3 linked regions of the Homo sapiens genome follow. The protein of the gene in region 2 purifies or fractionates together with the protein of the main gene of each other region. This does not show direct contact. Each region holds a gene or a part of one and is shown on either strand. Other genes may lie near its edges.

What was found.
Region 1: the proteins of SLC22A15 (region 2) and C2CD2 purify together in Homo sapiens (affinity purification with mass spectrometry; one large-scale study listed by BioGRID and IntAct). This does not show direct contact.
Region 3: the proteins of SLC22A15 (region 2) and SLC27A1 purify together in Homo sapiens (affinity purification with mass spectrometry; one large-scale study listed by BioGRID and IntAct). This does not show direct contact.

Annotation. Positions count from the first base shown.
Region 1 is NC_000021.9:41,884,595-41,888,153, forward strand, and holds the end of C2CD2 (C2 domain-containing protein 2), read right to left. Parts: 3' UTR 518-3,559; downstream 1-517.
Region 2 is NC_000001.11:116,031,918-116,035,569, reverse strand, and holds part of SLC22A15 (solute carrier family 22 member 15), read right to left. Parts: exon of another isoform or gene 2,924-3,652; coding exon of another isoform or gene 2,923-2,923; exon of another isoform or gene 1,813-2,922; coding exon of another isoform or gene 1,812-1,812; exon of another isoform or gene 1,716-1,811; intron 384-1,715; coding exon 243-383; intron 1-242. UniProt on the Homo sapiens protein: Organic zwitterion/cation transporter with apparent specificity for amino acids and their derivatives. Has low affinity for its substrates and may regulate their flux across the plasma membrane at high substrate concentrations.
Region 3 is NC_000019.10:17,498,007-17,501,658, reverse strand, and holds part of SLC27A1 (long-chain fatty acid transport protein 1), read right to left. Parts: intron 1,382-3,652; coding exon 1,255-1,381; intron 1,165-1,254; coding exon 1,027-1,164; intron 948-1,026; coding exon 783-947; intron 387-782; coding exon 240-386; intron 1-239. UniProt on the Homo sapiens protein: Mediates the import of long-chain fatty acids (LCFA) into the cell by facilitating their transport at the plasma membrane.

The sequences.
Region 1 (3,559 bases), on a different chromosome or scaffold from region 2:
TGTGGTGCCCAGGAAATGGAGCAGAAAACCTGGAACCCAGCTGGGAAGCATCGGGCTCCCTCTAAGGGTCTACACGGTGTCTAGCGAGCGGGCGGGACAGCTGAGAGGAGGGGTGGGCAGTGTGGGGACAGGAGGCTGGGCCTGTCCAGTAGCTTTCTCCAGGACACCAGCTCTCCACGTGCTCTGCTGTCTGGGCACCGCAGGGGGAATGAAGACTGAGGGAGACCACGGGAACTGATGACTAGAAAGAAGGCACGATGCCTGCATGGGGCCCGCAGGACACGTCTGTGACCCGACTCGACCGCCTCCCTCCCAGAACCACCGTGAGCCCCAGGCAAGTGCCGACGCTGTTCCACCTGTGGCTGAGCCAGGTACCTGTCCCCTCTGCATGCACCCGGGCCACCCACCGGGGTGGGGAATGGACAGTGAAGTCCAAGGATGACCTGATGAAAGGGGCGCTCAGAGAAGACCCTGGGACTTCCAGGACAGAACAGGACTCGGGAAAAACAACTCAGTGTAGTGTTCTGTGTGCACATTTATTTCTTTCAAAGATTGTTTGTGTTCCAGCCACATCTTCTCCAAAGGAACCCACCCAAGCCCGTGTGCAGGCTTGCTGCAGGGCTGTCTTCGGCGTTTAAAGTGCTACTGAGGAATACAATCATTGTCACGTAAGTTCATCACCGCACTCCAGCGTCAGGCCAAACCTTTCCGTGGACCTGGAAAACCTGCCACTTTCTTCTCTTTTTACAATGCAGTTTCGACATAACATTGGTAGAGTAAACAACAAACCACAAGCCTAAATGATGAATGGTGCGCTGCTGCCCAGCTGCTAACTGAGAGAACGAGGCAGTGTATTGTGTTTCGAATGCAAACGGTCATGGACCCAAGTTAACCTGAGTTTGCTCTGCAGGATTCCGCGGGGGCCTTGCCCTGTGCAGGCTGCTTTGGTCTTCGTGTCTAGGCCGGTTTGGGGCAGTGGGGAGAGGGCCTGGCAGCAGGGTTTACGCCAGCCCCGAGGTCTGTTTTCCGTCAGACAGAGATACGTGTCCTGCCTTCCACCATCCACCAATTTGTACTCTGAAGTTTCCAGATCAAGAGCCGTGAGATTACTACCCAGGAAACACCTGCCTTCGGTGGCCAGCAGTGTAAATTAATCTTTCCCTCTCTGCTCAAAGCAACTTTGCAACTCTCGTCTATAGAGGTGGCCAGTAAAACCCAAGCAAAAATCTAAACGGGCACCAGGTGGCCACTGAGTGGCGACTGGTCGAGTAGCAGTTGGTCATAAGGGATCAGGGCTGGTTTTGAACTCAGACTTGAAACTTGACGAAAATAAAGTGCTCTGTCAAAACTCTCACAGCAGGTTTTCAGCTGGAACAAGGAGATGGCTACTTTTTGTTATTGCTACAATAACACACGCGTGTGTGCAAACACACATAACACACACACACACTTAAAGCTCCATTTCACTCCTCCACAAAGAACAGAGGCACCTCCTTAAACAAAGCAAACGGGGAAGGGTTGCAAGCTCATTAAAACCAACATGAGCACCCAGTTCCAGAGATACAGACACAATTAATCTTAGTGTTCATGAGGAATTGTTTTTAAAACACAACTGGGCAAAACTTTCATCCAGACAAAAGCCAAAAACAAAAGCCCTCAAGCCACAAAAGCTTGTAGAAGAGGTGAGGCGATAAAGGTGATTTACACATCAGTATTTTTAGCATTTGGTGGATAATCTTAATTTATCTTTAACCTTCACAACATTTACTTTGTCATAAATACCCTACACCATGAAAAAACAAACCTGTATAAAACAGCTTGGAAAACAAACATTCACAGTATCAATACAGCCCATTTCTCACGGTGCTACCCTGAAGCTAGCCGACGTGTTGCCTTTGCCTTTGCTTCATAAACTCCCTCCCATGTTGGTGTTTTCTGTAACTTCAGAAAAGGCCATTGGATGGAGACAACGTGTGCGTGTCTACAGGAAGCAGAGCCCTAGACCTTGGTATTCAACAGTAAGCAGCGCTCATGGGATTCATCTGGAAATGGAATAGTTAAAACCTTTTTTTTTTTTTGAGAGCAAGAAGGCTTAATATAAAATCCTGGGGCCGGCCTGGTGGCTCATGCCTATAATCCCAGCACGCTGGGAGGCCAAGGTGGGTGGATCACCTGAGGTCAGGAGTTCGAGACCAGCCTGACCAACATGGTGAGACTCCATTTCTACTAAATAGAATTAGCCAGGTGTGGTGGCGCGTGCCTGTAATCCCAGCTACTTGGGAGGCTGAGGCAGGAGAATCGCTTGAACCAGGAGGTGGAGGTTGCAGTAAGCTGCCATTGCACTCCAGCCTGGGCAACAGAGTGAAACTCCATCTCGAAAAAAAAATTTTTTAAATAAAAAAAAACTTCTGATATCCTTGCACTTGAATAGAGTGCACCTGAATTCCAAAATCAAATAAAAAAGAACAATTAAAAACTTCTCATCAGTGTCTGAAATTCTGACACATAATATCCTCTTGGAATTCTTAAATATGTCTCAGCCTCTTTTTACCACATGGCAAAGAGCAGTAAAACTTCAAGTAAAACATTAAAGTGAACATCTGTCCCATCTGTCCCAAAAGACTAACAGTGATGCCTGACTTTGGGGACAGAAACTTGGTAGTATTCACATGTTTTGAAACTCCAGGTGCTTTTTTTACAATGATTAAAACTGGAATATAATTTTTAAAAACAAAGCAGGTTGGAAAAGTCATTTTAAAGTCACTTGATAATTCCTGGAACACCTAAGAAGTTTGTAATGCGCATTTTAAAGTGAAATTCCTAATGTCGTTTTCTAATCTCTCTCTCTAAAAAAGAAGAAAAAAAAATCCTATAATTTTGGTTTTTATACAGGTTTTTACTAAAAAAGAAAAAAATCCTATAATTTTGGTTTTCATATAGGTTTTTACTAAAAAAGAAAAAATCCTATAATTTTGGTTTTTATATAGGTTTTTACTAAAAAAGAAAAAAATCCTATAATTTTGGTTTTGATACCGGTTTTTACTAAAAAAGAAAAAATCCTATAATTTTGGTTTTTATATAGGTTTTTACTCACCAGTGGCTCTATTACCCCCGAAATATTTAATGTTTAAGGATTAACAAGAGGCTACGGAAGGAAGCTTGCCCATTTCCGTCTCCATGACAGAAGCCAAGCTTTCGTAACAGCCTTTTACATGTCTTTGGAGAAAAGTGAATCATATTAAACTGTCAAGAACACTTCACCCCAATGATGACTGCTCTTTGACCAGCATGTCTACTGGAAGTGGCACATTCAGAAGTGAGATCTGTGAATGAACTGAAATAGAAAGGCAACTGATGAGGAAAGCGACTGGAATGATATTAGGGATATTCAAATGGTGTGCCAGGTTTGTGATGTTTTCCACCAAAACAAACCCAAACAAGGGCACCCCAACCTGTGTCCAAGAGGACTGTTCACAGCAAAATTCTGAAGCGCTCATAGAAGGAATGTCCTGCGAGTTTGGCCCATTTGTTATTAAACTTCCATTCCTAAGACTGACAC
Region 2 (3,652 bases):
TTCGATATTCAATATTGAATTGAAATCTATATAAAAACTCGTAAACATGAAACTCAAGAAATCCTGCACTAAGAAATGAATTCTAACTGTTTTTAGATGGAAAGAAACTCTAATCACCACAGAGCAATCAGCTGATACTGCATACAAAGACAACACCATATAGATATGCATGTGTATCAGAGGGCATATGTGTATGTGTGCATTCTCTACGGTGCACTTCATATTCATCCACACTTACTCACCATTTTTGGTTAATCAAGTAGATACAGAGAGGGTAAGATGGAATCTCTATGAGGCCAGACAGGGCCAGGTTGGCATAAATACTTCCACCTAGATCACCCGCACTCAGAGTTAGGCCATAATACACCAAGCTGCACACAAACCTGCAATTGGGAGTCAAAGGACCAGGAGGTAAAAGACAAGAAGGACAACAGAAAAGTACATAAGAATTTGCCAGAGGAGATTCAAATATTGGTTCAATATAATTGCTTGATCTGCTGTAAGCAATAAGCTTGTCTCTCCTACTAATTTTTCTATTTTAATCTAAATTTCAACACTAGGAAAAAACAAAAAAATTATGGGGGTTTGGAAATAATTTGAGCTATGTCTATATGTTATATAAATCAAATGGATGGCCAGCCCCTTAAAGAGGAAAGACATTGCATGTGCTTTCAGCAAGCATTTCTGCAATTAATAGAACACAATGACCCTATTCTTTATTTAAGGCAACAATTTATGGAACACTTGTTATAGATAGTTGTAATATTATTGAAATGATTCTAGAAAAGAACTCCCATGGAGAAAGCCAACAGAAGATGGCCTTAAGAACATGAGCTGAGAAGTGACTGGATCTTCAGTGGGTCACCTGCAGGCCCAAAATGACTGGCACTCCAATCCCCAATGATCCAGACACTTCCCATTGCAGGTTTTAACCCCATCCTGCATTCAGCAGGTGCACATGATACAGACTCCCAGAACAGGAAAGAAAAATTAAAGGTCACAGCAAAGGCAGGATCTTCTAGGAGGAACAACCGAGGAAGGGTCACTTAAAAAGCCATTAATTTATTTATGTACACCGTTCCTGAAACAAACAGGGAGCTCCTCTTGGGTGGCAGGCATAGTGCTAGGCACCAAGCCTCTCTCCTACAATCCAAGAACTAAAGAGCTGAGGAAGCCAAGTGCCAACCTAAAGATCCAAATCAGGGCTTCCTCAAACACAGTAATGGTGGTAGTAGGAACTTCTATGCCTAGGAAACTGCATTATTAAAATAAAACAAAACAAAATAGAATAGAATGAACAAAAATAAAACCCTGAAACTGGGCTTTACAAAAATATGAATATGTTTGGTAAACCACAAATTTCTATACAAGCAGTAAAACACCGAAGCTTTGTTAAGTTCATCAGGTTTTATGCTTTTGCAACACAGTTTGATCAGTGTTTATTAAGGGGACATTCTCATTTGCTTCCCTTTAGTTTTCCTTAGAGAAACTCTAATGAGCTGTGGCTATAATGAGATCAGTCAGGAAAGGGAAAGTTTTATTTCCATCTCTGCTTAATCTCAGAAGTGGGCCAAGTACCCCAGGCTGTAGTAATGTAAGAAGAGAGAGATGTAAAGAGAAGGGACCCTCAAGCTGGAGTGGTTAGTAGTCCAGCCCTCCCTAGCAAATGAGCCAGAAGTATTATGCATGATTTCTTACTGAGATGAAGTGTTATTCATATACCAAGGACAACGGGCAGGATTGTAGCCAGGACATCACATGTAAGGATGCAAGGTGACACTGCATTGTCTGTTCTCACTGTCTCCCAGGTATCTTGCATGAAAGCAGAAGGCAAAATAAATTTAAATCCATGCAGTTTTCTAAAACGTTTTTAAAATCCCTTACACCTGCAGAAACAGCATTTACATAATGCTGTTTCCCAGTTGGTTTTCTGTGTCTGTTCTGCATTTACAATAGAAATTCCAGCCACACACACACACATACACACACACACACACACACACACACACACAGAGACACCCCTATTTAAATCAAGCTGTGACAGTATCAAGTCAGGGCAAGAATAGACAAGCCAGTTCAGGACAATAGTGGAATTTAGTTCCCAGCTGGTGGTGAGAGAGAACGGGGAGAGCATGAAGCATGGAAGGCCCATTGTCCCCAGGGCTGGGCCTCTGCTCTGCAAGTTGCCTTCGTCATAGAGTTGGTCATTGGGATCCATAATTACAGCTATTAAAATCATTTCAATCCTCTTTATGTCCCCCAAACAAAATCTAAAATGCTTGCATAATATTTAACAGTATATTTAGAGCATCAAATAATTATTTAAAAAGGCACTATTGTGGAAAATAACTAAAGGAACAGATGTTTAACACAGAGGTATAATTTGAATCCCCAGTTAAGGCTTTCTTGAATGACAGATCCACAGAGAAGATTTTAGAATTTTATAGCATCTTCAAAAAGAACGGCAATATGTGGAGTGACTGTCTCTATTATCACATGTTTTAACATTCTCAGCCTCAGGGAAGAAGTTTATTTGGCTGTGTAAGAAATAAAATGAACAGGGACAGTTTCCCTGGCCCTAAGTCTAGGGTTTGTTTGTTTGTTTATCCATTGAAGGCCAGAACCCAGAAGTTAATATACATGGGGGAAAAAATAAAAATAGTGAATAATCTGCAACAAGTAGGTGGTTCCTCCAAGGCAGAGGTTGACTGACTGTCTATGTGATACACAAATGTAAAGTTTTATGGAGCCCTAAGTACCTGAACATACTTTGTAAGTATTTGCTTTTGAATGGGTAGAACCTCAAATTAGCAGCTCCTATGTTGTGTTGTCAGGTTTGGCTTTCAACGGTTTTCTTAATCTCCATGCCTCCAAGCCTCAACATTTATTATGCATCTGTGATATTCCTAGTGCTGTGATGGTTCTGTGGGGGAAAGCAGCAGTTGGTTAACATGGCCCCCAACCATACAGGTGGCAGCCACTGCTTGGGTAGAAAAAGAGTATATGATATAGAAAAATATCTTTGCAGCTTCTTATTCTAAAGCTACTATTCTTTGTAGCTTTATACATAAGATCACTTTCATATAAAATCACTTTCCTTTATCCCTGCATGAAATGTAGGGCTCCATGCAGGCTTCATGGCAAATACATATAAGCCACAGCACAACTGTCCTTTAGGCTAGTAGGTATGATTTTGCCCAGATAACACTTATGGCACATTAGCAGTATGTACAATATCAAAACACATGTGCAATCCACAAATTGTATGCACCCATCCATTTCTCCTCTTTCTACAACTTCATTCTTTAAATGAAACCATCTTGAACCGCTGAATGCAACTTACACTCACGCTGAGAGCATTTTGAAAGGTAGGTGGGAATAAGCTAAACAACCAGAAAAATCAGGTTCAGAAAGTGCTCATCAGTTCAATCACTGATTTACATATGTGGCTTAGGGTTCATCACTTCAAACTCCTGGGGTCCCATCTGTACAAGGGATCATATTTAGCCCACCTCAGTGAGTTAGTGAGTGGGAGTGCCACAGAAAATGCAGCATGGAGCACCGCAATCAGAATGTGCTAGCAAACTGCTTGATGCCAGTGCCAAAGGTAAGTATTTTTAAAGTCCTATTTAAAAACTCATCTATTTCTACC
Region 3 (3,652 bases), on a different chromosome or scaffold from region 2:
GCTAATTTTTTGTATTTTTAGTAGAGACAGGGTTTCACTGTGTTAGCCGGGATGCTCTCGATCTCCTCACCTCGTGATCCGCCCGCCTCGGCCTCCCAAAGTGCTGGGATTACAGGCGTGAGCCACCGTGCCTGGCCCCGGCCAGGTATTCTTTTAGAGCAACACAAAATGGACCAAGACATGAATCAACAGACACACTGATGGATGAAGAGAGAGATTGGAGTGGGGGAGACTCGCACCTGTGGTGTCCACCTGGGGCAGGAGGCGCAGGAAGATGGGCCGGGCATAGGGTGCCAGCACCTTCTGCAGCTCCTGGTATATCGCGTTGGGGTCCAGCAGGCTGTGGGGGTCTGCGACGGCCGCCATCCCTGCCTTACCCTCCACTCCTGGAGGCAGAGGCTCAGCTGAGGACACCCCGCCTCTCATCCTCCCCACCAGCAGGACCAGATACACTGTCAAGCAGTAGCCCCTGGTCTGTAATCTCCAGTCTCTCCCAACCTGGGATGACATTTATGGAAGCAGCCACACATTTTGTGGAGCTCCTGCTTGGCTCATTGAAGCCCTAAGACAGGTGGGCTTTCATGATCCCATTTTCTGGATGACAAAACTGAGGCTCAACATCACCCAGGTGAACTGGCTCCAGATCCAGTGCTTCCTCCTGGGCTGCCATGAGCAGTTGTCCAGGTTGTGCACTGCCCAAAGGCATGTGTACTTCTAAGCCCCTTTTGGCTGAGCTCCCTCAGGACCATGCCTCAGGACCACCCCCTGCAACCCCAGCTTGCCTGGAACAGCCACCCCATAGACGGCCACGTCTGTCTGGCCCAGCAGGCGGCTCAGCACGCCCTCCACCTCGGTGGTGGAGACGTTCTCCCCTCGCCAGCGGAAGGTGTCCCCGCTACGGTCCCGGAAGTACATGTAGCCCAGCTCATCCATCACTAGCACGTCACCTGGCAGAGGGGAGAGGGGCAGATGGGTGGAGGATCCCCATCCGCACAGCCAGTCACCGGGGCCTAGCAGGCTGCGCACCTGAGAGGTAGGCGCTGTCGCCCTTGCTGAAGACGCTGTGGGCGATCTTCTTGCTGGTGGCGCTCTCGCTGACATAGCCATCGAAGCGGCGCAGCGGGTCCTGTTGGTTGATCTGACCCACAAGGAGGCCAGGCTCCCCTAGGGAGAAGGCCATGTTCAGGCTGCGCTAGGCAGGCAGGGCGTGGGGACCCCTGCTCCGGGTGGGGACCATGCGGGGGCCCTGCTCACCGGCCTGGCAGGGGATGCAGAGGCCCTGGGCATCCCGCAGCAGCTCCATTGTGTCCTCATTGACCTTCACCAGCCGGATGGGGTACACGTGGGGCAGGATGCGGCTGTTGAAACCACAGGAGCCGACCTGGAATGGGGTGAACTGAGTTGGAAGGAGCCGGGGATATGCGGGGTCCTTCTCAGTAACACTTTGCCTGCCTTGCCCTGGGGCTTGGACCTAGCACCTCCAGTGTCATTCTAAGCTCTGTGACCTTGGCTGATCTGCAAAAGCAGGGTAGTAAGCGTCGCCTCCAACTCAGGGCCCCTCCTCCCACCTTCCCAGCCTGCATTCAGTCAAGAGAAGACCTCTGGCTGGCACCCACTTCCTGATCCACAAAACCCTCCATGCTGGCAGGAAGTAGATGCCTCTGTGTGGACACTACAGCTACGTCAGACACTGCAGAGCTTCACCTGCTGCCCGCCGCCCTGCTTGGCATGGTTCTATGAACAGAAATGCTTCTCCAACATGTTTGAGCCACTACACCCTGTCTGGTGTGTTTCTTTCTGCTTTTCCCCCTTCCTCCGTTCCTCCCTTCCTTCCTTCCTTCCTTTTTTTATAGAGTCTTACTCTGTCGCCTAGGCTGGAATGCAGTGGCGCAATCTTCGCTCACTGTAACCTCTGCCTCCCACGTTCAAGTGGTTCTTATGCCTCAGCCTCCTGAGTCTGGGATTACAGGCGCATGCCACTGAGCCCAAACAATTTTTTTTTTTTTTGTATTTTTAGTAGAGATGGGGTTTTGCCATGTTGGCCAGACTGGTCTCGAACTCGTGACCTCAAGTGATCCACCCACCTCAGCCTCCCAAAGTGCTGGGATTACAGGCGTGTGTGGGTGGCAAGCTACCCAGGTGCCGAGGCAAGAGACCGAGGGCACGAGCCATTCCAGTATAATAAAATATATAAAACAACAAGAGTTATACTAGATCTAGATCATAGACATGATTATATATGAATATCATTAGTCATCAGTTTGTAGCAATTACTCTTTATTCCAGTATTATAATAATCCTCGCTCTGTAATCATAACCTAGAAAAAACCGGGCCATAGAGAGATAGGAGCTGAGGGGACACAGTGAGTAGTGACCAGAAGACAAGAGTGCGAGCCTTCTGTTATGCCCGGACAGGGCCACCAGAGGGTTCCTTGGTCTAGCGGTGACGCCAGCGTCTGGGAAGTCTAGTCTAGCGGTAGCCTTAGTGTCAAGGAAAAACACCTGCTACTTAGTGGACCGGGAAAGGGAGTCTCCCTTTCCCCCGGGGAGTTTAGAGAAGACTCTACTCCTCCACCTCTTGTGGAGGGCCTGACATCAGTCAGGCTTGCCCACAGTTATCCGGAGGCCTAACCGTCTCCCTGTGATGCTGTGCTTCAGTGGTCATGCTCCTAGTCCGCCTTCATGTTCCATCCTGTACACCTGGCTCTGCCTTCTAGATAACAGTAGCAAAATTAGTGAAAGTACTAAAAGTCTCTGATATGCAGAAATAATGGCATAAGCTGTCTTTCTCTCTCTCTCCCTCTCTCTGCCTCTGCCTCGGCTGCCAGGCAGGGAAGGGCCCCCTGTCCAGTGGACGCATGACCCACGTGACCTTACCTATCATTGGAGATGACTCACACTCTTTACCCTGCCCCTTTTGCTTTGTATCCAGTAAATAACAGTGCAGCCAGACATTCGGGGCCTCTACCGGTCTCCGCCTCTTGGTGGTAGTGGTCCCCCGGGCCCAGCTGTCTTTTCTTTCATCTCTTTGTCTTGTGTCTTTATTTCTACAATCTCTCGTCTCCGCACACAGGGAGAAAAACCCACCGACCCTGTGGGGCTGGACCCTACAGGCGTGAGCCACCGTGCCTGGCCTGGTGTGTTTCCTATGCAAGAATCTGAGCTACAGTGAGCAAAAGTGCCCTGGGGGCTGGCCATCCAACACCAAGCACACTGAGGAAGGAGCATTGTTCTTGGCATTAAGGACCCAGCCCCCATGGCACTTGCTGTTTTTTTTTTTCCTTTTTAGAGACACAGAGTCTCACTCTGTTGCCCAGGCTGGAGTCCAGTGGTGTAATCATAGCTCACTGCAGCCTCGATCTCGTGAGCTCACGTGATCCTCCCGCCTCAGCCTCCTTAGTAGCATTGACTACAGGCACCTGCCACCATGCCTGGCTAATTTTTTATTTTCTGTAGAAAAGGGGGTCTCACTACATTGGCTATGCTGGTCTCAAACTCCTGGGCTCAAGTGATCCTCCTGCCTCAGCCTCCCAAAGTGTTAGGATTACAGGTGTGAGCCACTGTGCCCAGCCGACATTTGCTTTATGATCATTATTACGGTCTGTTCTTGGCCTTGGATGGGAGGGGCTTGGGAAAGGAGAGGGAGATTCAT